Homo sapiens: one gene and its partners. The protein of the gene in region 3 purifies or fractionates together with the protein of the main gene of each other region. This does not show direct contact. Each region holds a gene or a part of one and is shown on either strand. Other genes may lie near its edges. The genes, in order: METTL9, SLC27A2, ARMC6 and DDX19B.

The links.
Region 1: the proteins of ARMC6 (region 3) and METTL9 purify together in Homo sapiens (co-immunoprecipitation; 3 studies listed by BioGRID and IntAct, with this or other methods). This does not show direct contact.
Region 2: the proteins of ARMC6 (region 3) and SLC27A2 purify together in Homo sapiens (affinity purification with mass spectrometry; 3 studies listed by BioGRID and IntAct, with this or other methods). This does not show direct contact.
Region 4: the proteins of ARMC6 (region 3) and DDX19B purify together in Homo sapiens (co-immunoprecipitation; 2 studies listed by BioGRID and IntAct, with this or other methods). This does not show direct contact.

What each region holds. Positions count from the first base shown.
Region 1 is NC_000016.10:21,602,552-21,609,578, forward strand, and holds part of METTL9 (protein-L-histidine N-pros-methyltransferase isoform 1 precursor), read left to right. Parts: intron 1-7,027. UniProt on the Homo sapiens protein: Protein-histidine N-methyltransferase that specifically catalyzes 1-methylhistidine (pros-methylhistidine) methylation of target proteins.
Region 2 is NC_000015.10:50,199,188-50,206,214, reverse strand, and holds part of SLC27A2 (long-chain fatty acid transport protein 2), read right to left. Parts: intron 3,729-7,027; coding exon 3,570-3,728; intron 977-3,569; coding exon 852-976; intron 1-851. UniProt on the Homo sapiens protein: Mediates the import of long-chain fatty acids (LCFA) into the cell by facilitating their transport across cell membranes, playing an important role in hepatic fatty acid uptake.
Region 3 is NC_000019.10:19,043,589-19,050,615, reverse strand, and holds part of ARMC6 (armadillo repeat-containing protein 6), read right to left. Parts: intron 6,625-7,027; coding exon 6,542-6,624; intron 1-6,541.
Region 4 is NC_000016.10:70,294,977-70,302,199, reverse strand, and holds the start of DDX19B (ATP-dependent RNA helicase DDX19B), read right to left. Parts: upstream 3,015-7,223; 5' UTR 2,903-3,014; coding exon 2,846-2,902; intron 1-2,845. UniProt on the Homo sapiens protein: ATP-dependent RNA helicase involved in mRNA export from the nucleus.

The DNA of each region.
Region 1 (7,027 bases), on a different chromosome or scaffold from region 3:
AGAATAGTTTTATATTTTTAAATGGTTACCAAGAAAATATCAAAATAACATTTTGTAATACATGAAGTTTCATTTATGGAATTCAAATTTATTTCAGTGTCTACAAATAAAGTGTTTTTTTTTTGAGATGGAGTCTCGCTTCGTCACCCAGGCTGGAGCGCAGTGGCCCAATTTTGGTTCACTGCAACCTCTGCCTCCCAGGTTCAAGCAATTCTGATGTCTCAGCCTCCCGAGTAGCTGGGATTACAGGTGAACACCACCACGCCCAGATAATTTTTGTAGTTTTCAGTAGAGATGGGGTTTCACTATGTTGGTTAGGCTGGTCTCAAACTCCTGACCTCAAGTGATCCTTCTTCCTGGGCCTCCCAAAGTGCTGGGATTACAGGCGTGAGGTACTACACCCAGCCCACAAATAAAGTTTTATTGAAAGAGAACTACCACATTCATTTACCTGTGGTCTATGAGCTCCCTGGCTACAATAGCAGCATATTTGCTACTGTATGGCCTGCAAGCCTAAAACATTTACTACGTGGCTTCTTACAGAATAAAGACTTTTTCCAAGAGAAATTCCCAGCTTCCTTAACAAACAGCTTTTTTTTTTTTTTGGAGACAGGGTCTCACTGTGTCACCCAGGCTGGAGTGTAGTGGCACAATCTCAGCTCACTGCATCCTCGACCTCCTGGGTTCAAGCGGTTCTCATGCCTCAGCCTCTCCATAGCTGGGATTACAGGCACGTGCCAGCACACCTGGTTAATTTTTGTAGTTTTAGTAGAGACAGGGCTTCACCATGTTGGCCAGGCTGGTCTTGAACTCCTGGCCTCAAGTGATCTTCCCACATCGGCTTCCCAAAGTGCTGGAATTACAGGAGTGAGCCACTGCAACCAGCCTCCAACAGCATATTCTTAATCACAGGTTGCAGGGTGGGTAGATTGACTCACTGGGAAGAAATAGAGGCAGGCAGTGAGAAACTAGTAGATATTGTCACTTTGCAATGTTGGCAGACTCAGAATTTAAAAAGACAACAACAAAAAACTTAGGATCTATTCTTTTTGATGCATTGCACCTAGTGCTTAAAGTTAATGCAACTATTATGGAGCTACTGAAACTTTGAAAGGACCCTTAGGCCCCAGGTTCTTGGTAATAATAGCGGTTCAGTAGCTTCTCAATTGATGGAGTGAAAAAATTGTTATAGAACTCGCTGAACCAAACCACAACGATTTCTCCGGGTGACATACTGCAAGGTTTTTTAAAAGCACAGATAACATTCAATATCTGGAATTATTAAGTTGTAACTTAAAATTGCAAGTATGTGTATATTTTTGTGACTTATTTTTTCACTTTCTTATATAAGCTCAGAACTGCGCTATGCCACAAGTGATGAAGAATTCAAGAAAGAATTAAAATCCTTTTTTTTCCCCCAAATGAAAAAATACTTGGACAGCATAGCCAGAGCCAAACACTGTGCTAAAGGACAGAGTGTTTCCTGTCCCTTTACCCCTCACTTACCCTGTGGAGGCAGACTGGAGTCAGGCATGAGTTAACAATGCTTCAAGGATAGTCAGCCAGCTAAGCCGGACAGACACTGATGGATTGGCGTCCTTCTCTGAACTGCCTTCGAGAGTCTGGAGGCCTTTGCAGCTGAATACCAAAGAGACTTCAGAAAGGATTTCTTTGCTTCCTCATAATCTGTGTTGAAACCCCAAGTGTTTGCTTCAGTTTCACAGAACACTAGAATCTCTTTCTTGTGCTGGATATACCAGGAGTCTTTATGTTTCTCTTTGAAGGTGCCCTAGAAGACCCTAATAGCTTCCAGTAAAAAGCTCTGTTGTGTAGACCCTCTGAAGCTTTGTTAAAATTTTAGGATTATCCTGTCCTATGGGGAGTGAGTATTTAGTATTTGCAATGAGGATTGCCAGTAATTGGTTATTAAATCAAAGCTGAAGCCATTTAATCTGTTTTAATTGATTCCCCTCATGGATATGAGGGTGCCTGTCACTGTACACATTGAAATCTCACATAAAGAGGTTATTGGGTTGAGTTTATATTGTTTGTGGGAAAATGGTGAATGGTCTGAATATTTACGCCTATGCTGTGCTTAAATGCAAGGTGTGCATGGTGAAATGTCTGGACTGAGTTGACTGCATTGTAAAATCTTAGAATGTGAATTTTGAATCCTTAGCTGTCAAGCTCTGTTGATGGAGTTGGTCTGGCCAACTTAGAAAAGATTCTGTGTTCATAGATCCTGAGCAGTGGAGCTTTTCTGATTGTTTTTGGTAGCCCTGAATGCCTTGGGTCTTTGATTACCCATTTCTTTTGAGAATGGCTGGATGCCTAGACCTACAGTTTGGTTTTTAGGCATTCCCTTGAACTGTACTTCTCCTCTGACCAGCCCTTGCCTTGGAGAGAAAGGGGAAGGAAATATGAAGAGCTACTGGCCTTCTATTGTGTGCCAGGCACTTCAAATATATTATCCCCAGTAGTCCACATAGAACTCTTGGAGGTTGGTGGTATCATCCGCACTTTACATACAGAAAAGTGAGGGTGAGAGAGAGAAGAGACTTGCTCACCAGCACAGAGTTAATGGATGATAGAGTTGGGCTTTGCACCCAGCTTTGGTTTCAAGGCAACACATTTTCTGCTGCTTTATGATGCCCCTCCTGGTAAACCTTGTGTTGTCTGAGGGGTGGTAAAAATAGGCTTGCCTTCTTTTTTTTTTTTTTTTTTTTTTTTTTTTTTTTTTTTTTTGAGAAACAAGTTCTTACTCTGTCACCCAAGTTGGAATGCAGTGGCCTGATCATATCTCACTGCAGCCTCAAACTCCTGGCCTCAGTACATCCTCCTGCCTCGGCCTCCTGAGTAGCTTCTAAATCTTTTGTAGAGGCAGGGTCTTGCCATGTTGTTCAGGCTGGTCTCAAACTCCTGGCCTCAAGCAGTCCTCCTGCCTCAGTCTCCCAAAGTGCTGGGATTACAGGCGTGAGCCACTGCTCCTGGCCTAGGCTTGCCTTCTGAATAGGAAACTGCCCTCATTCTAGTGAGGCCTCTGTGTAGACACTGAAGTTAGGTAGCTGTGTGCACAATACTTGTTGAAGATTTTGTAGTTTGTGAATTAGATGAGAATAAGACAGCTGCTTGAAGTTCTGGCCTTTATCTGGTTTGTGCATGCTTTTTTTAAGGCTTAAAGTTGAAAAAAGATTCTTACATGTATTGTCATTTTTTCCTGACATCAGCCATTCTCTAATTTTCCATCACCAAGTGGGTGTTTAATTGTTCAATCCTGTTCTGACATTAACTACCTGGAGTTAGGGTCACGCTTTACAGAGTTAAGAGCTCAGTCCCACAAGACTGCCCTCACTTCAGAGGCCAGCTGGAAGTCCTGGGTTCCCAGGCTGCCAGTGCTTTTGTCCACCTTGAACAAATTTGGGAGTTCCCACAACTCTACCTTCACCCTACCCCACCCCACCCCCTAATTTCCTATAATAGAATGACTCATAGAACTTAGGAAAACACAGGTGCGGTGGCTCACGCCTGTAATCCCGGCACTATGGGAGGCTGAGGTGGGTGGATCACGAGGTCAGGAGATCAAGACCATCCCGGCTAACAGGGTGAAACCTGGTCTCTACTAAAAATACAAAAAAATTAGCTGGGCGTGGTGGCACGTGCCTGTAATCCCAGCTACTGGGGAGGCTGAGGCAGGAGAATCGCTTGAACCGTGGAGGCGGAGGTTGCAGTGAGCTGAGATTGCGCCACTGCACTCCAGCCTGAGCGACAGAGCGAGACTCCGTCTCAAAATAATAATAATAATAATAATAAACCACTTAGGTTTACTGGTTTATTACAAAGGATACAATTGGGGAACGGCCAAGTGGAAGAGGTGCATAGGGTGAGGTGTGGGAGGTGGTGTAGAGTTTCTCTTTCCTCTGATGAGCCACCCAACCATCATATCAATGTATTCAGCAAACTAAAAGCTCCCAGGACCCCATAGTTTAGGGGTGTCATTACATAGGCATGATTAGACTCAGTCTTCAACTCCTTTCTCATCCTTGGAGATTGGAAGGTGGGGCTGAAAGTTTGAACCTTATACCCACATCCTGGTCCCCATCCTGAAGCTGTCTGGGTCTCCCACCCCTATCAGGAGTCATCCTGTTAGCATACAAAAGATACTCTTATTACCCTGAGATTCCCGAAGGGTTTTAGGAACTCTCTATCAGGAACCTGGGACAAAGATCAAATATGTATTTTTTATTATACCACATCATCTAAAATCAGTCAGTTTTTAAAATTACTTTCTGACTCTGCTAGTGTGCTTAAATCCTTTGTATTTTGGGAATGTTGTATTTTGGATATGTTGTATATCACATGTTTGATTAGTTGATAAACTCCAAAAATAATTTCAGAAAAACTTTTAACCATATTTGGTCTGATTAGCAAATCTAATTTTATAGGAAAATTGCATTCCTACTTTGAACGAGTGATTCATCAACCAAGGTTATATATAAATATTAGGAGGAGTTCATGGGCTTAATGAGAAATTTTTTTTTTTTTTTTGACAGTCTTGCTTTGTCGCCCAGGCTGGAGTGCAGTGGCACACTCTGGGCTCACTACAACCTCTGCCTCTCTGGTTCAAGTGATTCTTTTGCCTTAGCCTCCCAAGTAGCTGGAATTATAGGTTCCTGCCACCACGCCTGGCTAATTTTTGTATTTTTAGTAGAGACGGGGTTTCACCATGTTGGCCAGGCTGGTCTTGAACTCTTGACTTCAAGTGATCTGCCCACCTGGGCCTCCAAATTGCTGGGATTACAGGTGTGAGCCATCGTAGCCAGCCAGGAAATTTTTAAGACAGTATGACCTAATATTTAATAACTTCGGTTGGCGAATACTGTCAGACATGCATTCAAAACGCGTGGCAGCCACCTGATTTGGCTGTTTACTGCCTGGCCAATTATTAGTATCTTTGCAGTTGTGTTGCCAGTAGGGAGAATATTGCTATTTACTGTAATTTTTAGATATCACATCCTGTTCTGTACTTGGCATCAGCAGATGACTGAATGGAATCATTCTCATTTGATTAGAATTTGTCATTTAAAAGATTCCCTTGTTTATTTAGATGAAACAACATTTGAGTGAGCTTTAAAGGCAGATGCTAATAAGATGCTTTTTCAGACATGGTAGGCTCCAGCCAAGGAGTCCAGCCTCACAGTAGAGTGGGCGTGTAGTCCTGTCAGTGTGTGAATTTAACGGGCATAGTACTTTGTTCTTGCCTGTGCACCTTTGTCTCTGTAGTCTTTAAGGAGCACACATTTAAAGAACTCACCTGCGGCTGGGCGCAGCGGCTCACGCCTGTAATCCTAGCACTTTGCGAGGCCGAGGCAGGCAGATCACCTGAGGTCAGGAGATCAAGACCAGCCTGGCCAACATGGTGAAACCCCATCTCTACTAAAAATACAAAAATTAGCCAGGCGGGGTGGTAGGTGCCTGTAATCCCAGCTGCTTGGGAGGCTCAGGCGAGAGAATCACTTGAACCCGGCAGGCAGAGGTTGCAGAGAGCCTAGATCACACCACTGCACTCCATCCTGGGCGACAGAGCAAGACTCCGTCTCAAAAAAAACAAAGAACTCACCTGCTTGAAAGTACACAGGAGCATACAGACAAGCCACCCAGTGCTGCGAGCTTAGCGTAGCTTTTTATCTAAGCTGGTTGTTTGGAGAGAGGTGAAACCAGGAGTCCTGCCCATTGGGTTAAAGGGGTTCCTGCAGATTTTTTCTCTCCTTGGTCCTTGGTATTTCACCTTAAGGGCAAGGTGACTGCTCCTTTAAGGCTCTGAAGCTCCTCGCCAAGATCATAGTCACATTACTTGTTTCCCTTGGTTTCTGATTTTATTTTCACTCTGGAATGTAAGTTCTCTGAGGCCAGCGAGTCCATCTTTTAATTCAGTCAGCTGGAGTCCCTAGACCATAGTTAGGCTGGGATAGTGGGAAACACTACTGGAGAGTCAGTACAGTGACATTTTGTGGGTAAGGCCATGTATGGGTTCTCAAGCAGTGGCAGTTTTGCCTCCCAGGGGACATTTGGCAATGCCTGGGACATTTTGGGCTGTCATTTGGGGTAGTGCCACTGTAACCTGATGGATAGGCACTAGGAATGCTGCTGAACATCCTACAATGTGCAGGTCAGCCCCTATAACAAAGGATCATTTAGCTCCAAATGTCAGTAGTGTGAAGGCTGAGAAACCCTGGCTTACAGGACTTTAGTTACTATCTAGACCAGATTATCTTTTCTCTACACACATGTAGTTCAGTTTAATTGGCAGGATAGTCCTGCTTTCTTTTCTTTAGCAGACACACTGGGTAGAGTTAAGTGAAGAGAAGCTTCTTTGAAAGAAACGCTTATAAAACAACACGTACCTGGAGCAGGAGCTTGAATCAGCTGGAGCTGCTTAGGGACCCTATGCTTCCCATTTATTCAGAAATTGCAAGGTGGTAAATGAAATGTAAAGCACATGGCTTGGTGCCTGGTGCATGATAGGTGCTCAGTTGGTGTCTTCCTTCATTGCTTGCTTCCTTGCTTGTGGTAATGCAATTTTGTGGTGAGTGGGTAGCTGTAACCACTGGTTGCAAAATTAGGTTTAAGCAAGGCCTTGCAGAGTTTGAGAAATTGACAGAAACCCCATGGCAGCGATCTCTGTGGTTATCCTTATGTTTCCTCTAGGATTTTGTTAGAAACTCCAAATTCTGTTTAGGCTGCCTGTTGATGAACATTTATTGTTTGTCTGTATCTGTGCCAGGCACTGAAGCCATTCATTTTCTCTGCCTTTATGAAGCTCTCAGTCTACCTGGGAAGATAGGCACTGAACATGCGATTGTCTACAATTATTCAATTCAGAGATTGTAAATATTACCAAAGGGACAAATGGGATGTATGAAAGGGTATTAGAACAGGGGGCCTAGCCTAGCCTTTCGTAGGTATATTTTCCTTTGAAAAGAAAATATACCTAGGAAATATTTAGGCTGAAGTTGAACGAACCAGGTGA
Region 2 (7,027 bases), on a different chromosome or scaffold from region 3:
TACTACTGGCATCTCGTGGGCAAAGTCCAAAGGGTGCTAAACACTCTACAATGCACAGAATAAGTCCGCGCGGCAAAGAATTAAAAGCCCAAAATGTCAGCAGTGCCACCATTGATAAATCCTATCTGATACCAGATCTCTGATGAGAGTTGAGGGACTGGGCAGGAGGAGCTCTTGAGAACAACCCCATCGAGAGCTGAACATCTGCAAACAGGGCAGATCCAAGGCCATTGGAGATGCCCTGGGGCATCTGTTCCCAGCTTGGTGACAGACTTGGCTGGCTGGTTTCAAAGTCACACAGAGATTTATTTGTTAAACAGCATTAAGTAAAAGTTTCCTGTATGCCTTCGGTATAACAGAAAACAAGGAGACAAGATGTGGTTCCAGCCATCAAAGATATTACAGCCAAGGAAGGATGGGAGACATGAACACAAACTCCTGCAACATGACAAGGGCCACAGAGGGTAGAAATAAAATGACGTAGGGGAGAAGAGTAATGACTTTTGTTGGAGTGACCCAAATATGTTTAATGTATGAGGTATCATTTGAACTGGGCTTTGACACTGGCTTTTAGTAAGCAGAGGGGGAAATGCAGGATATGCTAGGTGGGGAGTAAGATGTGAAAACAAGTAAAAAGGCAGGAAATAATCATCATCATAATAATAATATTAACTCCCACCTACTAAGTCCCCTCTATATGGTAGGTATAGTGCCAAGTACTTTATCATGATAATTGTATCCTAAACTCAAAACTGATATATGCAAATCAGTTGAAGCCTAGCACAACCCAAAGTGACTTGAATTTCCATCTTACCCATTTCAAAATGATAGTAAAACGGGGGGAGTGTTACCTGTGGTGAGTTGCATAAATACCGAAGCAGTTCACCGATATACTGAATGACAGTGACGTTGTATTTTCTGCAGTCATCCCAAAACTGGCTGGCTGAAAATTTAGTCCGCAAGGCAAGAGTAGCACCTACAGAGAAAGCACAGAAAGTGTCAAGAAAGAAATGGTGGAAAAAATTCTCCCAGTTATGTTTAATTTGTCAACTTTGAACGGTAGAAATTTAAAAATAAATTATATTTGCAAACAAGTATTGAGTACCTTATATTCAAATGCAAAAAATTAGTAAGACATGGTTTTGTTCGATAGGGGCTTCCAATCTATGGAGGAGAAGACTCATACAAAGGTCATTTTAATAAAAGTTAGCTTGCAGTAAGAGATTCAAATGAAGTCCTAAGAGGGAGGGAGGGGAGAGGGAAAGAGATTTCATGCAATATATATATATATTATATTATATATATACTAAATATATGTATAAATAGAGTGAGACTCTGTCTCAAGTATATATATATACACACATACATATATATACACACACATACATATATATTATATATATACACACACACATACATATATATGTATTTTATATATATATATTTGAGACAGAGTCTTGCTCTATTTTTTTTTCTTTTTTTGAGACAGAGTCTCGCTCTGTCACCCAGGCTGGAGTGCAGTGGTGCCATCTCGACTCACTGCAACACCCGCCCCCCAGGTTCAAGTGATTCTCCTGCCTCAGCCTCCTGAGTAGCTGGGATTACAGGCGCGTGCCACCACACCTGGCAAATTTTTTGTATTTTTAGTAGAGAAGGGGTTTCACTGTGTTAGCCAGGATGGTCTCAATCTCCTGACCTCGTGATCTGTACCCCTTGGCCTCCCAAAGTGCTGAGATTACAGGCGTGAGCCACCGTACCTGGCCCGGGTCTCACTCTATTGCCCAGGCTGGAGTTCAGTGGTGAAATCTTGGCTCACTGCAACCTCTGCCTTGTGGGTTCTCGTGCCTCAGCCTCTAAGTAGCTGGGATTACAGGTGGACACCATCATGCCTGGCTAATTTTTGTATTTTTTAAGAAGGGATGGGGTTTTGCCACGTTGACCAGGCTAGTCTCAAACTCCTGACCTCAAGTGATTCGCCCACCTCAACCTCCCAAAGTGCTGGGATTACAGGCATAAGCCACTGTGCCTGGCCCATTCATGCAATATTTTAAATAACTTTGTGCATAAAACAAAGTTTGTGTTAAGTACTTATGTGTAGTATTTTCCACTTGTGGTGTCCTGGTGCTTAAAAAGTTACAGATTTTGGAGCATTTTGGATTTCAAATTTTTGGATTGTGTGTGTGTGTGTGTATGTGTGTGTGTTTGAGCTGCTATAACAAAATAGTACAGATGGGTGGCTTAAACAACATTTATCTCTTGCAGTTCTGGAGGCTGGGAAGTCCCGATCAAGGTGTCTGGTGTCTGGTGAGGGCATTTTTCCTGGTTTGGGGATGGTCATCATCTCCCTGTGTCCTTACATGGAACAGAACAGAGTCAGGAAAGAAGCTGGCTGTCTCCTGTTCTGATAAGGGCACTACCTTTCATGAAGGCACTACTCTCATGACCCAATTACTTCCCAAAGGCCCTACCTGCTAATACCATCATATTGGGGGTTAGGATTTCAACATATACATTTTTGGGGGACACAAATATCCATCCATAACATGCATGCATATACACACACGCATATATGTGTGTGTATATACATATGTGTATATATTTTTATATATACATATATGATTATTTAAAATGAAATGCCACATGAGAGAAAAAGTTGTTTATTTAGCTCAGTCAGAAAGTTACATATAGCTTCCTGGAAGAGTTGGCTATTGAACTTTGCGGTAATGTATACAAGTGACATGAATCCTCCTGGAAGGAGAGAGGATGGCAACTCCAATTTGAATAGTAAAGTCTGAGAAGGAAACAGAAGAGATGGCAAGCCAAGCCAAGCCAAGTATTCTGATGGAGTTGCCATCTTCTCTCCTTCTAGTAGAGCTGAAAAGCTGTGGAAATGGGAGATTACAGAAGAGTGCACACAACTGCAGAAGTTTAAAGCTGATGGAGATTAACATGCAAGTTTCTAAAGATGGAAATGACATGACATAGAATCTAAGACTCAAGTGTCATAACCTAAAATTTTTTTTTTTACAGTCAAGGTCTCACTCTGTCACCCAGGCTGGAGTGCAGTGGTGCAATCACAGCTCACTGCAATCTTGAACTCTTGGACTCAAGCAATTCTTCTACTTCAGCCTCCTGGGTAGCTGGGACTACAGACTTGAGCCACCATGCCTGGCTATATATATATATATATATATTTTTTTTAGAGATGAGGTTTGCTATGTTGCCCAGGCTGGTCTTGAACTCCTGGCCTCAAGCAATCCTCCTGCCTTGGCCTCCCAAAGTGCTGGGAATACAGGTGTGAGCCATTGCACCCAGCCCTAAAATATTTTAAAGGAGTTTGTCTCTTGATATACTGAACAATTATAGCATTACATTATTAGATAGGCAGGCATGAAAAACAGATTATTTTAGATGCTTGCTTGTAATATGTGATTCAAATTGCCTTATTGTTAATGCAAAATTGAAAACTGTTCCTAGCAGACAGCAACGTAGCCAAATTTTGTATTACTGTTCCTTCTGGGAAAATGTAAATGTGCACTCGCCTCCAACATTTTGTAGAAAAAGCTTACCAGCCACAATACATCCGTGAATGCCAATCAGTAGTGCAGCACTGTGGTAAAAGGGCAGAGTGATATAGATGACATCATCTGCCTTCAATCCGCTTACAAAAGTGAGGCCAGTTCCATACCATATGCGCTGATGAGTGATCATGGCTGCTTTTGGAAGACCTTTGTAAATATACAAGAGAAGGCATGAGTTAACCAAGATTGGGCATTTACAGTGTAGGAGAGAGATCTGGCTTAGGAAGATTCATCACCCTGTATTTTGAGAATTGCACTGGGAAGGGCCATGACCAGTTAGTCCAGGAGTTGACAAATGTTTTCTATAAAGGACCAGGGAGTAAATGTTTTGGGATTGTGGGTCATACAATCTCTGTTGCAACAACTGAACTCTGCTATTGTAGTCAAAAGCAGCCATACACATACATAAATGGAGTGTGGCTGTGTTCCAATAAAACTTTATTTACAAAAACAGGTGGGAGGCTGTATTTGGCCCACAAGCCATAGATTGCTAACTCCTGAGTTAGATGGTTATGACAGTAGTAATCTGAAGAGAAACAGAAACAGAGGAATGACTGTCCATTGAATTTCTGCCCTGTGGCTACCACTTTGCAAGACATTTTAAAAATCCATAACAAGTTTATATATGACATAAACAGAATTATATTCTCCAATCCACAGATGTGAAGGCTGAGAGTCAGAGAGATTTCTTACGTACTAGAGTTATTTTATACAAACAAAGCAAATATGAACATTTGCTTATATGTTCTTGCCTTTTCCATTAAAAAATATGCACACTTGGCCAGGCGCGGTGGCTCACGCCTGTAATCCTAACACTTTGGGAGGCTGAGGCGGGCGGATCACAAGGTCAGGAGATCAAGACCATCCTGGCTAACATGGTGAAACCCCGTCTCTACTAAAAATACAAAAAATTAGCCGGGCGTGGTGGTGGGTGCCTATAGTCCTAGCTACTCAGGAGGCTGAGGTAGGAGAATGGCATGAACCTGGGAGGCAAAGGTTGCAGTGAGCCGAGATAGCGCCACTGCACTCCAGCCTGGGTGACAGAGCAAGACTCCATCTCAAAAAAAAAAAAGAAATATGCACACTCTTTTGCATGTTTTTTGTCTCTGCTGCTTAACAATGTTTACTGGAGATTTGTTCATGTTTGTACATAAAGATTTCCCTTATTTATTCATTTATTTATTCTCTTTCTCAGCTCCTTCAAGTCCTTTTATAAGTGTATTATAATTTATTTATACTATTTGCTGTTATAAATGATGCTGCAGTGAAGAAGCTCGTCCACGTGGCAATTCACACTATGAATGACACCATATCTTTTGGATAAATTCACTGAAGTGAGATTGTTGTGTCAAAAGATAAAAGTTGGCCAGTCCTGTAATCCCAGCAATTTGGGAGGCTGAGGCAGGAGGATCGCTTGAGCCCAGGAGTTCAGCACCAGTCTGGGCAACATAGTGAGACCCCTCCTCTACAAAAAGTAAAACAAATTAGCTGGGTGTGGCGGTATGCACCTGTAGTCCTAGCTACTTGGGTGGGATGATCGCCTGAGCCCAGGAGGTTGAGGCTACAGTGAGCCCTGATCCTGCCACTGTACTCCAGCCTGGGCAACAGAATGAGTTTCTGTCTCAAAAAAAGAGTAAGAGTCTTTGTAATTTTGATAGATAACTTCCACATTGCCAGTTATAAGGGCTGTCCCCATTCATTCTCCTATCAGCAATACATGAGTGTGCCTGTTTCCTCCTAGCCTTGTCAATGTGTGCTCTTAAATGTTGGGGCCTTTGCCAGTCTGAAAGGTGAAAAACCGTATCTCAGTGTAGTTTTAGTACATTAGACTAAATGCGCTTGCACTTTCTTAACCATAATTTATATACGTTTTTTGTAAGATTTTCTTCTGTAAGTGTATGCTTATGTTGTTTCCCATGGAAGAACAGTTCAATTGGGGAGGGCATGAAGTCACTGGGAAGGGGACTAAGAGTTTAAGATCTGAGTGGGTAAACAGACTTCGTGAAGAGGAAGACAGATCTCTGTTGACTCAGATTCTTCAATACTTGGTGGTACCTTCACCAGATAGTGCCCAAATAGCAGCAACTTGTTACAAGGCAGACAAATATGGCTAGCAACCTACCATTATTGTAAACACAATTCAAAATTCATTTTCTTTGACAATGGCCCAGTTTTTTGTTTTGTTTTATGTATTATTATTATTATTATTATTATTTTTGAGATAGGCTTTCACTCTGTTGCCAGGCTGGAGTGTAGTGGTGTTCAAGGCTCACCACAGCCTCAGGTCAAGTGATCCTCCTGTCTCAGCCCCCCAGGTATCTGGGACCACAGGTGTGCACCACCATGCCTGGCTGTTTATTTATATTTTTTGTAGAGACAAGGTCTTGCTTTATTGCCCAGACTGATGTTGAACTCTTGGCTTCAAGTGAGCCTCCCATCTTGGCCCCAAAGTGTTGAGATTATAGATATGAGCCATCATGCCTGGCCTCTGAAATTTTTAAAAAGAAATGCTCATCTTTGTTGCCTTGAAGTACTTTCAGAACTTTCCTAAATTAAGATTTTGTATTAATGAATAAATGAGAATATCTGGTAACTATTATATAATTTTGTGCTAATGACTTCCTTTGAGGAGCAGGAACATTTATTCTCCAACTGTTTAAACAAATTCTTTTAATTAATGTTTACAAGAGTAACTTAGCACTATTTTTTTTCTACAGACAGTGCCTTGCTCTGTCACCCAGCATGGGGTGTAGTGGCACGTCACTGTAGCCTCAGACTCCTGGGCTCAAGTGATCCTCCCACCTCAGTCTCCCAAGTAGCTAGGACTACAAGGTGTACCACTATGCCAGCTAATTTTTTAATGTTTTTGTAAAGATGTGGTCTCGCTATGTTGCCCAGCCTGGTCTCAAACTCCTGGGCTCAAGTAATCCTCCTGCCTTGGCCTCCCAAAGTTCTGAGATTGTAGATGTGAGCCACTGTGCTTGGCCTAGCAAATATTTGATTCAGAGAAAATGAAAAAAGTAAAATAAACACCCTTCTAATTGTCTTCCAATTAAATATAAATTCTGACTTACGAGATTAAATCAGAGGATGCTCATTCTCTTTTTTCTCCCTAAAAGGGGTTTTCTTTTTTTTTCTTTCTTTTTTTTTTTTTTTAAGACAGAGTCTCGCTCTGTCGCCCAGGCTGGAGTGCAGTGGCGCAATCTCGGCTCACTGCAAGCTCCGCCTCCCTGGTTCATGCATGCCATTCTCCTGCTTCAGCCTCCTGAGTAGCTGGGACTACAGGTGCCCGCTACCACACCTGGCTAATTTTTTGTACTTTTAGTAGAGATGGGGTTTCACCATGTTAGCCAGCATGGTCTTGATCTCCTGACCTCGTGATCTGCCTGCCTCGGCCTCCCAATAAAAGGGGTTTTCTATTTGACTGTGAAAACATGCATTGTAAC
Region 3 (7,027 bases):
AGACATTACTACAAAGAATACATACAAATGGCCACTAATACATGAAAAGATGCTCAATGTCACTAATCATTAGGAAAAATGCAATTCAAACCTACAGAGAAGCCAGGCGTGGTGGCTCATGCCTGTAATCCCAGCATTTTGGGAGGCCAAGGCAGGAGGATCACTTGATCCCAGGAGTTCAAGACTCGCCTGGGCAACATACGGAGCATTCATCTCAAAAAAGAAAATCAAACAGAATTACTGTGTGACCCATCAGTTCCACTTCTGGGGATACACTCAAGAGAACTGAAAGCACAGTCTCAAAGAGATACCTGTACACCCATGTTCATAGCAGCATGATTCATCAGAGCCAAGAGGTTGGAGGTTGCAGGGAGCTGAGCTCGTGCCATTGCACTCCAGCCTGGGCGACAGAGAGAGACTCTGTCTCCAAAAAGAAAAACAAACAAACAAAAAAACACTACAATGACAACAAAGAAATTCAGGCACATAGTATGCTATGGATATACCTTGAGGACATTACGCTAAGTGAAATAAGACAGTCACCAAAAGACAAATACTGTGATTCCATTTATTTAAAAAAAATTTTTTTTTTTAGATGGAGTCTTCCTCTGTCACCCAGGCTGGAGTGGAGTGGTACCATCTCAGCTCACTGCAACCTCCACCTCCTGGGTTCAAACAATCCTCCCGCTTCAGCCTCCTGAGCAGCTGGGACTACAGGCATGTGCCACCACGCCCGGATAATTTTTGTATTTTTAGTGGAGACAGGGTTTCACCATGTTGGCCAGGCTGGTCTCTAACTCCTGACCTCAAAGTGATCTGCCCACCTCAGCCTCCCAAAATGCTGGGATTACAGGCATAAGCCAGGGTGGCCAGCCTGTGATTCCATTTATATGAGGTCCTGGAGTAGTCAAATTTGCAGCAACAGAAGGTAGAATGATGGTTGCTAGAGGCTGAGGGGAAGAGGAACATGGAGTTTGTTTCAGTATCGCAAGTCATGGATAGTCATGATGGTTGCACAACATTATGAATGTACTTAATGACACTGAACTCTACATTTAAAAATGGTTACAATGGTAAATGTTTTTATGCACATTTTACATAACAAACAGCGGTGTAGCACTTCAGCAGAAACCCTGTAAGAAACTTGAAAAGCTCCTGACAGAAATGCCTTTGAGGATGCACAGTATTGGAGTTAGAACTACCAAGATTTCACAAGGAATTACTAAGTTAGCAAGGATGTGTAAACTAAAAATAAAATTCTTGGCCGGGCATGGTGGCTCATGCCTGTAATCTCTTCACTTTGGGAGGCCAAGGCAGGTGTATCGCTTTGAGCTCAGGAGTTCAAGACCAGCCTGGGCAACGTGGTAAAACCCTGTCTCTAAAAAAAATACAAAAATTAGCCAGATGTTGGTGGCTCACACCATGTAGTCAGCTACATGGGAGGCTGAGGCTGAAGAATTGCTTGAGCCCGGGAAGCAGAGGTTTCAGTGAGCTAAGATCACACCACTGCACTCTAGCTGGGGAGACCCTGTCTCAAAAAAAAAAAAAAAAAAAAATCTAAGTCCTCATCCATACTAAGGACCCCTCCTCTTGGCCAAAGGTATTCCAAAGGTAACCTGAAAAACTACTTCAGGTCATGATGGGAAGTGGCGGTCAAATATGTCTCATTTTATCTTCCTGCCTTTGGAAGTCAGACATAACTGATCATCGTAAGACTTTTTTGTAGCAATAAGACACCAAGTTCCAGCCTAACTAATACAGTATGGAAAGAAATCAAAGTATTTTACCCTAAAATATATTTCTCTGACATATTTTGAAATGGCCCTGCAAAGCTATCTCTTGTGGGGAAAAGCTACATTCTACAGAGATTCCCTTTCCAGGTCTTTTCCCTGATTCAGGAGAGAATTAACTAAGAGTCTGGCACCTTTTTAAGTCTGATAAGAAATATTTACAATCTATTTTCTCTGAAGCCTGCTACCTGGAGGCTTCCTTGATAAACCCTTGATCTCCACAACCCGTCTTAAGCAAAATATTCCTTTCTATTGATTCTAGGTCTTTAGATAACTCTTTCAATCAGAAAATCTTTTTTTTTTTTTTCTGAGTCTCATTCTGTTGCCCAGGCTGGAGTACAGTGGCATGATCTCGGCTTACTGCAACCTCCGCCTCCTGGATTCAAGTGATTCTCCCGCCTTAGCCTCCCAAGTAGCTGGGATTATAAGCACCCACTACCATGCCCAGCTAATTTTTGTTTTTTGTTTTTTGTTTTTTTGAGATGCAATTTCGCTCTTGTTACCAAGGCTGGAGTGCAATGGTGCAATCTTGGCTCACTGCAACCTCTGCCTCCCGGGTTCAAGCAATTCTCCTACCTCAGCCTCCTGAGTAGCTGGAGTTACAGGCACCTGCCACCATGCCCGGTTAATTTTTGTATTTTTAGTAGAGACGGGGTTTCATCATGTTGGCCAGGCTGGTCTCGAACACCTGACCTCAGGTGATCCACCTGCCTGGGCTCCCAAAGTGCTGGGATTACAGGTGTGAGCCACCACACGTGGCCTAATTTTTGTATTTTTTGTAGAGATGGGTTTTGCCATGTTGGCCAGGCTGGTCCCAAACTCCTCAGCTCGATGCAATCCGACCACCTCAGCCTCCCAAAATGCTGAAATTACAGACGTGAGCCACAGCACCTGGCCAGAAAAATCTTTAAATGTGTCTATGACCTGGAAGCCCCGGCTTTCAGCTGCCCTACTTTTCCAGACCACACCAATGTACGTCTCACATGTATTGATTGATATCTCATGTCTCCCTAAAACGTATAAAACCAAGCTGTAGCCCGACCACCTTGGACACATGTTCTCAGGAGCTCCCGAGGCTGTGTCATGGGCCTTTGGTCACTCATATTTGGTTCCGAATAAATCTCTTGAAATATTTTATAGAGTATTTTCATTGACAGATGGTTGCTAAAATGCAGGTGGCAGAGCCAGCTGTGTTCTACCTATGACAATTTTCTGTGGCGCTCACCACCTTGCTCATGGAGGGGGGCTTTACCCATTGACTCCTGGAGTCATTCAGTCTCTGTGACTAATGCCTTTCATTCTACAACTTCCCACATATAAATGTGGCCTGGCTGGCTCAGTTTTTCCCTGGACAGTCTCCAGACATTATTTTCCTTCTGTTTCTACAAGCCTGTTTGCAACAAATCTTATGACACAAACAGATTAATTTCAACGACCATCACAATGTTGAATTTTTTTCTCCCTCAACAGATAAGCATTTTTTACACATCTAAGCCAAGATGCACAAAGGTCAATTATGCTGCAGGGCATTTGAGAAGGGGGTTGGTTCAGTTGCGAACTGACCGCTGAGATGCAAACCCCAGTGTCTGGTGGGAGGGACAAGGCAGGGACTTTCAGATTTTACTATAAATGCTTGAGTATTGCTTGAATCCTTTATGCTAAGAATGTATTTCCACTCTTCCTTAATGAAAAATAAAATTTAAAATTAGCCAGGCATGGTGGCAGGTACCTGTAATCCCAGCTACTCAGGAGGCTGAGACAGGAGCATCACTTGAACCTGGGAGGTGGAGGTTGCAATGAGCCGAGATCCTGCCATTGCACTCTAGCATGGGTGACAGAGTGAGAGTTTGTGTCAAAAAAAAAAAAAAAAGAAATAGAAAAAGAAAAAAAAAAAAAAACAGGTGAGCATGTTGGCTCACACCTGTAATCCTGGCATGTTGGCAGGGCAAAGTGGGAGGGTCACTTGAGGGCAGGTGTTCAAGATCATCCTGGGCAATATAGCAAGATCCCATCTCTACAAAACAAAAAATAGGCTGGGCATAGTGGCTCATGCCTATAACCCCAACACTTTGGGAGGCCGAGGCAGGCAGATCACTTGAGGTCAGGAGTTCAAGACCAGCCTGTCCAATGTGGTGAAATCCCATCTCTACTAAAAATACAAAAATCCGCTGGGCGTGGTGGTGCACGCCTGTAATCCCAGCTACTCGGGAGGCTGAGGCAGGAAAATTGCATGAACCTGGGAGAAGGAAGCTGCAGTGAGCTGAGGAAGGGCCACTACACTCCAGCCTGGCCAACAGAGTGAGACTCCATCTCAAAAAATAAATAAATAGGCTGGGCGTGGTGGCTCACACCTGTAATCCCAGCACTTTGGGAGGCCGAGGCAGGCGGATCACAAGGTCAGGAGATCGAGATCATCCTGGCTAACACAGTGAAACCCCATCTCTACTAAAAAATACAAAAAATTAGCCGGGCGTCATGGCAGGCGCCTGTAGTCTCAGCTACTCCAGAGGCTGAGGCAGGAGAATGGCATGAACCTGGGAGGTGGAGCTTGCAGTGAGCCAAGATCACGCCACTGCACTCCAGCCTGGGCGACAGAGCGAGACTCTGTCTCAATAAATAAATGAATAAATAAAAGAACAGTTAAGAAAAAAAAAGGAGCGAATGTTATAAACAAACACGGAGTTTCCTGTACTGCTGGTAGAACGGCCTTTCAGTGCTTTGCTTCCTGGATCCGGGTACCAGCTCTGCCTCTCACCAGCTGACCTTTCGGGGTGCAGGGGCGTGGTCACTGATCCTTGGGAAGCCTCAGATACCTCACCAGCAAGATGGGCTGAGCACAGATTAAGAGAACATATTTTAAGAATTTAGCATAATAGGCCGGGCATAGTGGCTCACGCCTGTAATCCCAGCACTTTGAGAGTCCGAGGCAGACGGATCACGAGGTCAGGAGATGGAGACCATCCTGGCTAACATGGTGAAACCTCGTCTCTACTAAAAATACAAAAAATTAGCCAGGCATGGTGGCGGGCGCCTGTAGTCCCAGCTACTCGGGAGGCTGAGGCAGGAGAATGGCGTGAGCCCAGGAGGCAGAGCTTGCAGTGAGCCAAGATCACGCCACTGCACTCCAGCCTGGGTGACAGAGCGAGACTCTGTCTCAAAAAAAAAAAAAAATTAGCTGGGCATGGTGGTGTGCACCTGTAATCCCAGCTACTTGTGAGGCTGAGGCAGGAGAATTGCTTGAACCCAAGAGGCAGAGGTTGCAGTGAGCCAAGACTGCGCCAGTGTACTCCAGCCTGGGCAACAGAGTGAGACTCTTGTCTCAAAAAAAAAAAGAATTTAGCATAATGCTGAGCACTTAAGAAGTACTTAAGCAGTAACTGCTAGACAATATAGACGATATTGTTATTGAGATCCTTCCTATATAAACTTCATCTACAAATCAGTAGGAAAAAGATGAATCACCCAATGCAAAGATAGCCAGAAGACAAACTCATTTTAAAATAAATTCATCCAGGCTGGGCACTGTGGCCCATGCCTGTAATCCCGGCACTTTGGGAGGCCAACGCGGGCAGATAACCTGAGGTCAGGAGTTCGAGACCAGCCTGGCCAACATAGTGAAACTTCGTCTCTACTACAAACACAAAAAAATTAGTCAGGTGTGGTGGCGTGTGTCTGTAATCCCAGTTACTCGGGAGGCTGAGGCAGGAGAATCACTTGAATCTGGGAGGTGGAAGTTGCAGTGAGCTGAGATCACGCCAGTGCACACCAGCCTGGGCAACAGAGTGAGACTCTGTCTCAATAGATAAATAAATATATATATAATAAAATAAATTCATCCTTATTAGGCAAGAAAGGCAAAAAGCAAACTAACAACAACGAGGCAATTTTCACAAGACCTCCTCAAGGCAGGAGAGGGCAGGACCCCGAGGTAGGGAGAAGTAAGTGTCATGCCTTAGGCAAGCCGGGTTTACACCCAGAGCCGTCTCTTCCAACTTCCTCTCCTATCACTGCACCTCCTGCTCCCATGTCAATGACTTCTCTTCTCTTTGGATCTCAATGTCCCCATCTCTACAATGGGGAAATCCCAGCCTTGCAGGTGTTGTTTGGACAGTGACCAAGAAGACAGGAAAAAAGTACCTGCACAGAACCAGGCCCACAGTCGGTTCTCAAACACCGGAGCCTTCTGCTGTATTACAAAGTTTGATGGGCGACCTTACGGAAAGCATTGAAGTTCTTTTACCTTCCTTCTTTCGGTCTCTGGAGAGGTTAAGTGCCAGCTCCTGGCCTGTTTCCCCATCACTAAGACAGGAATGACACCACCTACTTCACTGGTGAGCTTCAGTGCTAACGGACTGGCTGGAAAGTGCTGGTAAACAGTCAGTGCTCAGTAAGTGACAGCCTTACTGTGAGCCCACTCTCTCGTCCTATGAGTCCTGACCATCTGTCTCTGGGAAGCCAGAGGGGCACCTCTATGGTGTCCCTGACTCTGGGATCCCAGCAGCAGGGACAACCAAGCCATCTACCTGATTTCAGCATACATGCCACCACAGGAGCCTGGGATCCCCTGCATTGGAAGGCATGCCGCCCTCGGACATGGACTCAGGGAGACCTGGCTGCAAACTCAAGCTTGCCCATGCATGCTGGGGAGGGCATGACCTTCAGAGCCTGTATTCTGCCATCCAGGAAACAGGGAAGAGGTGCCCCCAGACAGAGGTGACGCAGGACCTGCTGTGTGGGATGCCCACTCCTACCTGCAGGATGTCATGTGTGGGCTCCTGGGATCCGTCTGCAGAGACTTTAGGTGCCGTCTTTACAATGTTGCTCAGATCAACCCCTGTTGGGGGTGGGGGAAGCAAGCACACAGGGGTCAGAAAGAAAGTGACAGCTGTCATCCCCGTGGGCCTGCTGGAATCACACCTCAGGACCCTTCTGCTGGGACCACCCCACTCCAGAAGCCTCCCACCTCCCTATTCCCGCCCATGCCACATCATCACGGGGGTGTAGAGGGTATTGGGTGTTTCTGCCACTGGTCCGTGGGCCAAAGGGAGCAGAGTGGTAGTGAGGCCGTTGTCACACAAGGCTGTCATCACAGGCCACGTCTGTGCAGTGAGGTGCCACATGCTGCCTGGTGGGCTTGGTGGGGGAGGGAGGGACCCCACAGCCTTCTCCCTTGGGGCTCCCATCCCTCCTGGCTCTGGCTGCATTCTTGCCCCTGCTGGCACCCCCACAGGGAGCCC
Region 4 (7,223 bases), on a different chromosome or scaffold from region 3:
CCTGTAATTCTAGGACTTTGGGAGGCTGAGGCATGCGGATCACTTGAGGTCAGGAGTTCAAGACCAGCCTGGCCAACATGGTGAAACCCCACCTCTACTAAAAATACAAAAAGTAGCCAGGCATGGTGGCACATGCCTGTAATCCCAGCTACTCGGGAGGCTGAGGCAGGAGAATCGCTTGAACTCAAGAAGCAGAGGTTGCAGTGAGCCAAGATCGTGCCATTGCACTCCAGCCTGGCGGACAAGAGCGAAACTTCATTTCAAAAAAAAAAAAAAAATTAAAGGGCCAGTCCAACAGATCCAACATTCATCTAATAAGAGTTCTGGGAAAAGCTATGCAGTGGTGCGCACCTGTAGTCCCAGCTACGAGGGAGGCTGAGGCAGGAGGATCACTTGAGCCCAGGAGTTCAAGGTTGTAGTACACTATGATTCTGCCTGTGAATAGCTACTGCACTCCAAATTGGGCAACATAGACAGACACTGTCTTAAAAAAAAAAAAAAAAGAGAGAGAGAGAAAGAAAGAGAGAAAGTGAGTTCTGGAAAAGAGGGAATTAAGAAAAAACAAAGAAGAAGAAATCAGCAATGAAATTATTCAGGAAAAGTTCTCATAACTGAAGAACAAGAGTTTTTCAGATTGAAAGTACCCACACCCAGGGGCCAGTAATATGGATGAAAATACACCCATACCAAGACATATTACCATAAATTTTCTGAATATTAAAGACAAACAGAAGATTCTCCAAGCTTAGAAAGGGGAAAACAAGTCACATCAAGAATCAGGATGGTCTCAAACATTTCAACAACAAATACAGAAATCTAGAAGGCAATGGAACAATACATTTAAAATTTGGCAGGAAAATAATTTTCAACCTACAATTCTATACCCAGCCAAACTATTATCCAAATTACAGGGCAAAGTTAGATTTTTTAAGACATGGAATATTCTTAAAGTAATTTACTTCCCGTACACCTCCAGAAAGCTGACAGATGGCTGCACTAAAATAAGGAATAAATCAAGAAAGATGGAAAAGTAGGGGTACAGAAAGGAAGGGATCCAAGAGATCCAAAAGACAAGAGAAAGGAGGAAGGAATCTGCAGAATGAGGCTGAAGGGAAATTTGCCCTGTTCCCTCTATTCCCCAATATGAACTGTGCTCTAAAGACAGGAGTAACTAGTCCAATTTGAAGCAGACTTAAAGGCCTAGGAGAAATGGAATTGATAGAATACTTGATGAGTCTAAGCATCCTGAGATAAACTTAGACAACTGGAAGACAGTTTGGGGTTGAATTGATAATTAAGAAAAAAAAATGAAGCATAAACATAAGGCAATTAAGAATTCCAAGTAAAATAAATTTTATAGAAAAGTAAAGGGCCAGGCAAAGTGGCTCAGGCCTATAATCCCAACACTTTGGGAGGCCGAGGTGGGAGGATGGCTTGAGCCCAGCAGGTCAAGACCAACCTGGGTAATATAGTGAGACCTCGTCTTCACAAAAAATTAAAAAGTTAGCTGCATATGTTGGCACATGCTTGTAGTCCCGGTTACTCAGGAAGCTGAGGTGGGAGGATCACTTGAGCCTGGGAAGGGGAGGTTGTAGTTGGCAAGAGATGGTGTCAATGCACTCCAGCCTGGGTGACAGGGCAAGACCCTCTCTCAAAAAATATATGTAAAGAAAGAAAGAAACAGAAAAAAGAGGCTGGATGCAGTGGCTCACACCTGTAATCCCAGCACTTTGGGAGGCTGAGGCAGGTGGATCACTTGCACGCTGGAGTTCGAGACCAGCCTGGGCAACATGGCAAGTCCCCATCTCTACAAAAAAAATACAAAAAGTAGTTGGGCATAGTGGCACATGACTACAGTCCCAGTTACTCAGGAGGCTGAGGTGGGAGGATGGCTTGAGCCTGGGAGGCAGAGACTGCAGTGAGCCAAGATCACTCCACTGCACCCTAGCCTGGGCAACAGAGTGTGACCCTGTCTCCAAAAAAAAAAAAGGAGTTGCCTCTGGGGAGGAAAAAAATTGGCGGGAACCGTTGTTTTTAAAATAACTTCACTCTTTAAACAATGTGTATATACAACTTATTTTTTATGAGCTATAAAAAATAAAAGACAAGGTTCTTATTCTTGAGGAAGTCATAGCAATAAGTACTAACAGAAGTAGGTTCAAAGCCTACTAGGATTTAAAGTGTTTCGGTGGGAGAAATTAATTCTACGCAGTAGTGTTTAACACATCTCTTGCTTACCATGTGTCAGGTCCAGAAAAAAAGAACAAAGTGAAGCCGATGAGGAAAGGATTTGCTGACTGCCACACCTACTGGGTCCATCATTTATCACTGAGGAAGCACACAAATATGAGCAAAGACATGGTCCCTGAGCCAAAGAAGCTCTGAATGTAGAGGTGGAGAATGACACCTAAAATAACTATTACAAACCGGGGCGGCCAGGAACAATGGCTCAGCCTGTAATCCTGGTGCTTTGAAAGGCCGAGGCAGGAAGATAGCTTGAGACCAGGAGTTCCAGACTAGCCTGGGCAACCTAGCAAGACCATGTCTCTATTTCAATTAAAAACAAACAAAACACAATCTAGGGTGATGGGTGCAATCTATGATTCTTCCTGGTTCCAGGAAGACAGACAGGCAGCTGAGCGCTTTACCGATAGGAGCACTCACCTGCGCTTACGTAACGCGGAGGCGGCTGCGTAAACAAAGCCAGCTCAGGGTCCAGGCTCCATCCCTATCCTCCCCGCCACCCCATCCAGCCTCTAATCAACCTGGGAAACATTCTTTCCCAGGGACCAAGTCTCCGACCAGAACTAGTCCCCTGACCCTTTTAGGGCTGAAGCCAACTCACCGACTCAGCCGCAGCTTCCTGCTCGTCCACCGCCAGGGCCCATGAGTCAGTGGCCATGGTCCCAGGCGCGGGTGGGACGCTCGTGCTGGTGGATTCGAGGGATGGCACGAGGGATCGTGGGCTCCGGGGGTTCGCGGCAGGCTCTGCTCCAGCCCCACTACAAGGCTGCAGACCGGAAGCGGCGCGCCACAGTGACGTCGGAGGCCACTCCTGTTTGGCCACCCTTTGCCCACTTGAGGCTGTCGATTCTGTTGCCCTCAGACCCGTACCCCTCAACCCCGGGCAGAGCAAGCTTTCCTATCAAGCTGAGGTAGTTATCTTAAAATGCCTAAGCTCTGGTTAACTTGGATCTCCAACCAAAGAACAAAATCAGATTCCCGCCCAACACAGTGGCAGAGTAGGCACTAATACAGATTGAACAGATTGAATATATCAAAACAGAAAACCATTACCAATAGTCACCAAAATGCAAAACAAGCACAGAGCTGTTTCCCTTTTCAGATTGGTAATTTAAAATGTCCAGATGTTGGCAATCAGCCCTGACAACCCATTTGGTTAAAAGTCCACTTGACCACTATGCAATCTTGTTAGGCATGTAACAAAACTGCACCTGCACTCATAAATTTGTACCCCAAGAGGAGGAATTGCAGCTCTCCTATGTAAGCGTTGTAGAATCAGGAGAATGTTAAAAAGGAAGAAAACAGACGGTGCGGTGGCTCATGCATGTAATCCCAGCACTTCTGGAGGCCGAGGCGGAAGGATCACTTGAGCCCAGGAGGTCTAGGCTGCAGTGAGCCATGACAGGGCCACTGCACTCCAGCCTGGGTGACAGAGCAAAACTCTGTCTAGGAAAAAAATAAATAAAATTAAAATAGTAAAATAATTAAATAGAGCTAGGTGTGGTGGCTCATGCCTGTAATCTCAGCACTTGGGTTTTTGTTTGTTTTTTGAGATTGAGTCTGGCTCTGTCGCCCAGGCTGGAGTGCAGTGGCACGATTTCGGCTCACTGCAACCTCCACCTCCTGGGTTCAAGAAATTCTCTTGCCTCAGCCTCCCAAGTAGCTGGGATTACAAGCATGCGCCACCATGCCCAGCTAGTTTTTCTATTTTTAATAGAGATGGTGTTTCACCATGTTGGCCAGGATGGTCTCAATCTCCTGACCTCGTGATCCGCCTGCCTTGGCCTCCCAAAGTGCTGGGATTACAGGCGTGAGCCACTGCACCCGGCCTTTTGTTTTTTTAAGATAGAGACAGATCTTGCTGTGTTGTCCTGGCTGGTCTCAAACTCCTGAGCTCAAGTGATCCTCCCACCTCCACCTCCCAAAGTGCCAGGATTGGCCAGGCACAGTAGCTCACATGTGTAATCCTAGCATTTTGGGAGGTGGAGGTGGGAGGATCGCTTGAATCCAGGAGTTTGAAAACAACAACATAGCGAGGCCTTATCCTTACACAAGAAAAATTTAAAAATTAGCCAGGTGTCGTCGCACATGCCTGCAGTTCCAGCTACTTGGGAGGCTGAGGTGGGAGGATCACTTGAGCCCAGGAGGTTGAGGCTGCAGTTAGCAGTGTTTGTGTCACTGCACTCTAGTCTGCGCAACAGAGTAAGACTCTGCCTCATAAACAAATAAATAAATAGGAAGAAATATCTTGGGCTTTTAGTAGTTGTAAAATAAGGATTAAATGAAAGAACTGCTTTCTCCTAACTAGAATCAAAGAAGCTTCTCTTCCCTTGTTACTTCCCTAGAAAGAAACTAGGCATTTTCCTACAATCTGAAAAAAATGAATCCCAACCTCTTTCATTTTGCCAATATTATACAACAATAAGTTAATTTCAAGCCATGAGGCCGGGCACAATGGCTCACACCTGTAATCCCAGCACTTTGGGAGGCCAAGGTGGGTGGATCACCTGAGGTCAGGATATCAAGACCAGCTTGGCCAACATGGTGAAACCCTATCTCTACTAAAAATACAAAAATTAGCCAAGCATGGTGGTGCACACCTGTAATCCCAGCTACTTGTAAGCCTGAGGCAGGAGAATCACTAGAACCCGGAAGGCAAAGGTTGCAGTGAGCCGAGATCATGCCATCACACTGCAGCCTGGGCGACGAGTGAAACTCTGTCTCAAAAAAAATAAATAAATAGACTGGGCACGGTGGCTTGCACCTGTAATCCCAGCACTTTGGGAGGCCAAAGCAGGTGGATCACGAGGTCAGGAGATTGAGACCATCCTGACCAACATGGTGAAACCCTGTCTCTACTAAAAATACAAAAATTAGCTGGGTGTGGTGGCATGCACCTGTAGTCCCAGCTACTTGGGAGGCTGAGGCAGGAGAATCGCTTGAACCCGGGAGGTGGAGGTTGCAGTGAGCCAAGATCATGCCACTGCACTCCAGCCTGGACGACAGAGCAAGACTCTGTCTCAAATAAATACATAAATAAAAACAAACAAACAAAAATCAAGCCATGGTGGGTTCTCTGTGGAATTTTACCAGTACTGTAAGAGTAAAAACGTTTTGAGAAAGGGTAAAGCAGTTCCAGAGAACATTCTACTTGCTATGATTATTTTTTCCTGCACTCTCACAGGGTTAACTGGAGAAGACGTTTTTGTTTTTTGTTTTTGACCTTACACATGAGGATGTGCTAAAAAGAAAAAGGCAAACACCACCTTGGTAGCCATGACCTACATCTCATCAATTCAGAAGCAACCCTGGGGATATTTTCCCAGATAAATTATATTGTTTCACAGGGCTAGAGGTTAATGAAATTTGCAAAACATTTTAATGAGGTTAAAAATTACATCGCCCAAGTTGCAGGACCGTATATAGTAGGTTCACTTGTACAAAACAAACAGGAACCCCCACCCCAAAAGCCCCCAAGCTCCCATATATGCTTTTATACACTATGGAAAATGCCTAAGAAGACCGGAGCAGTGGCCTGTGTCTGCAGTCCCAGCTACTCCTGAAGCTGAGGTTGGAGGATCGCCTGAGCTCAGAAGTTCGAAGCCAGCCTGGACAACATAGTGAAACCATCGCCTCTTAAAAAAAAAAAAAATGTGGCCAGGTGCGGTGGCTCACGCCTGTAATCCCAGCAGTTTGGGAGGCCAAGGTGGTGGATCACGAGGTCAGGAGTTCAAGATCAGCCTGGTCAAGATGGTGAAACTCTGTCTCTACTAAAAATACAAAAATCAGCTGAGCATGGTGGTGGGTGCCTGTAATCCCAGCTACTTGGGAGGCTGAGGCAGAGAATTGCTTGAACCCAGGAGGCAGAGGTTGCAGTGAGCTGAGATCATGCCACTGCACTCCAGCCTGGGCAACAGAGCGAGCCTCTGTCTCAAAAAAAAAAAAAAAAATGCTTAAGATACACACAAAACTGATAACCATGGCTGCCCCTGGTGAGGGCCTCTAGAAGGGTGGGGGTGGATTGAGTATGCTTTATCCTCTGAAATTATTTTCCATATGCATGGTTTTTTTTAAATTAGAGACAGGGTCTTGCTATGTTGCCCAGGCTGGAGTGCAGTGGCTATTCACAGGCACCATTACAGCACATACTATATCCTTGAACTCCTGAGTTCAAGAGGTTCACCTGCCTCTGCTTCCCAAGTAGCTGGGACTACAGGTGTGTGCAGCTGTGCTTGGCTCCATGTTTCCCTTTTAAAAATGTATTTCAGACAAACAAGAAAGGGTATAACAAATACTTAGATTCCCACCTCAAAACTTAATAAATAAAATTACTAAGGTCCAATTGATAATCTCCGTATACTCATCCCAGGAAGACAGCAGCTATGCCAAATTTGGTGTTTATCCTTCCCGTACACGATTTTAGCATGTGTTTTTTCTTCTACTAAATAAATATGCAAGCCTGGGCAACATAGGGAGACCCCGTCTCTACCAAAAAAAAAAAAAAATTTTTTTTAAGTAGCTGGGCGTGGTGGCGTGAGCCTGTAGTCCCAGCTACTCCTGAGGCTGAGGTGGGAGGATCACTTGATCCCAGGAGTTCAAGGCTGCAGTGAGTCGTGATCATGCCACTGCACTCCAGCCTGTCTCAAAACAAAACAAAAAACAAAAAAACTTAAAAATAGCATCGGGGTTTCAGACTCTCCTAAGTTCACCCCCAATACACCTGCGCTTTGTGAGACTCCGGCTAAGAAGGAACCTGGTTTCCAAAGCGGGCGTGGAAAGAAGAGTGTTCGGGGAATAAGAGCATCTGGATTGGAATTCAGCCTCCTGCATTTATTCCCACGTGAGCCTAGCCAGTCTCAGTTTCCCCTGAAATCACAGGAAGTACCCACCTCACAGATGGCGGATTCTAGATCACAAGGCTAAGACCTTGGGCCGAAGCCTCGAGAAATATTGTTATTCCTCTACCCAGGAGTAGGGGC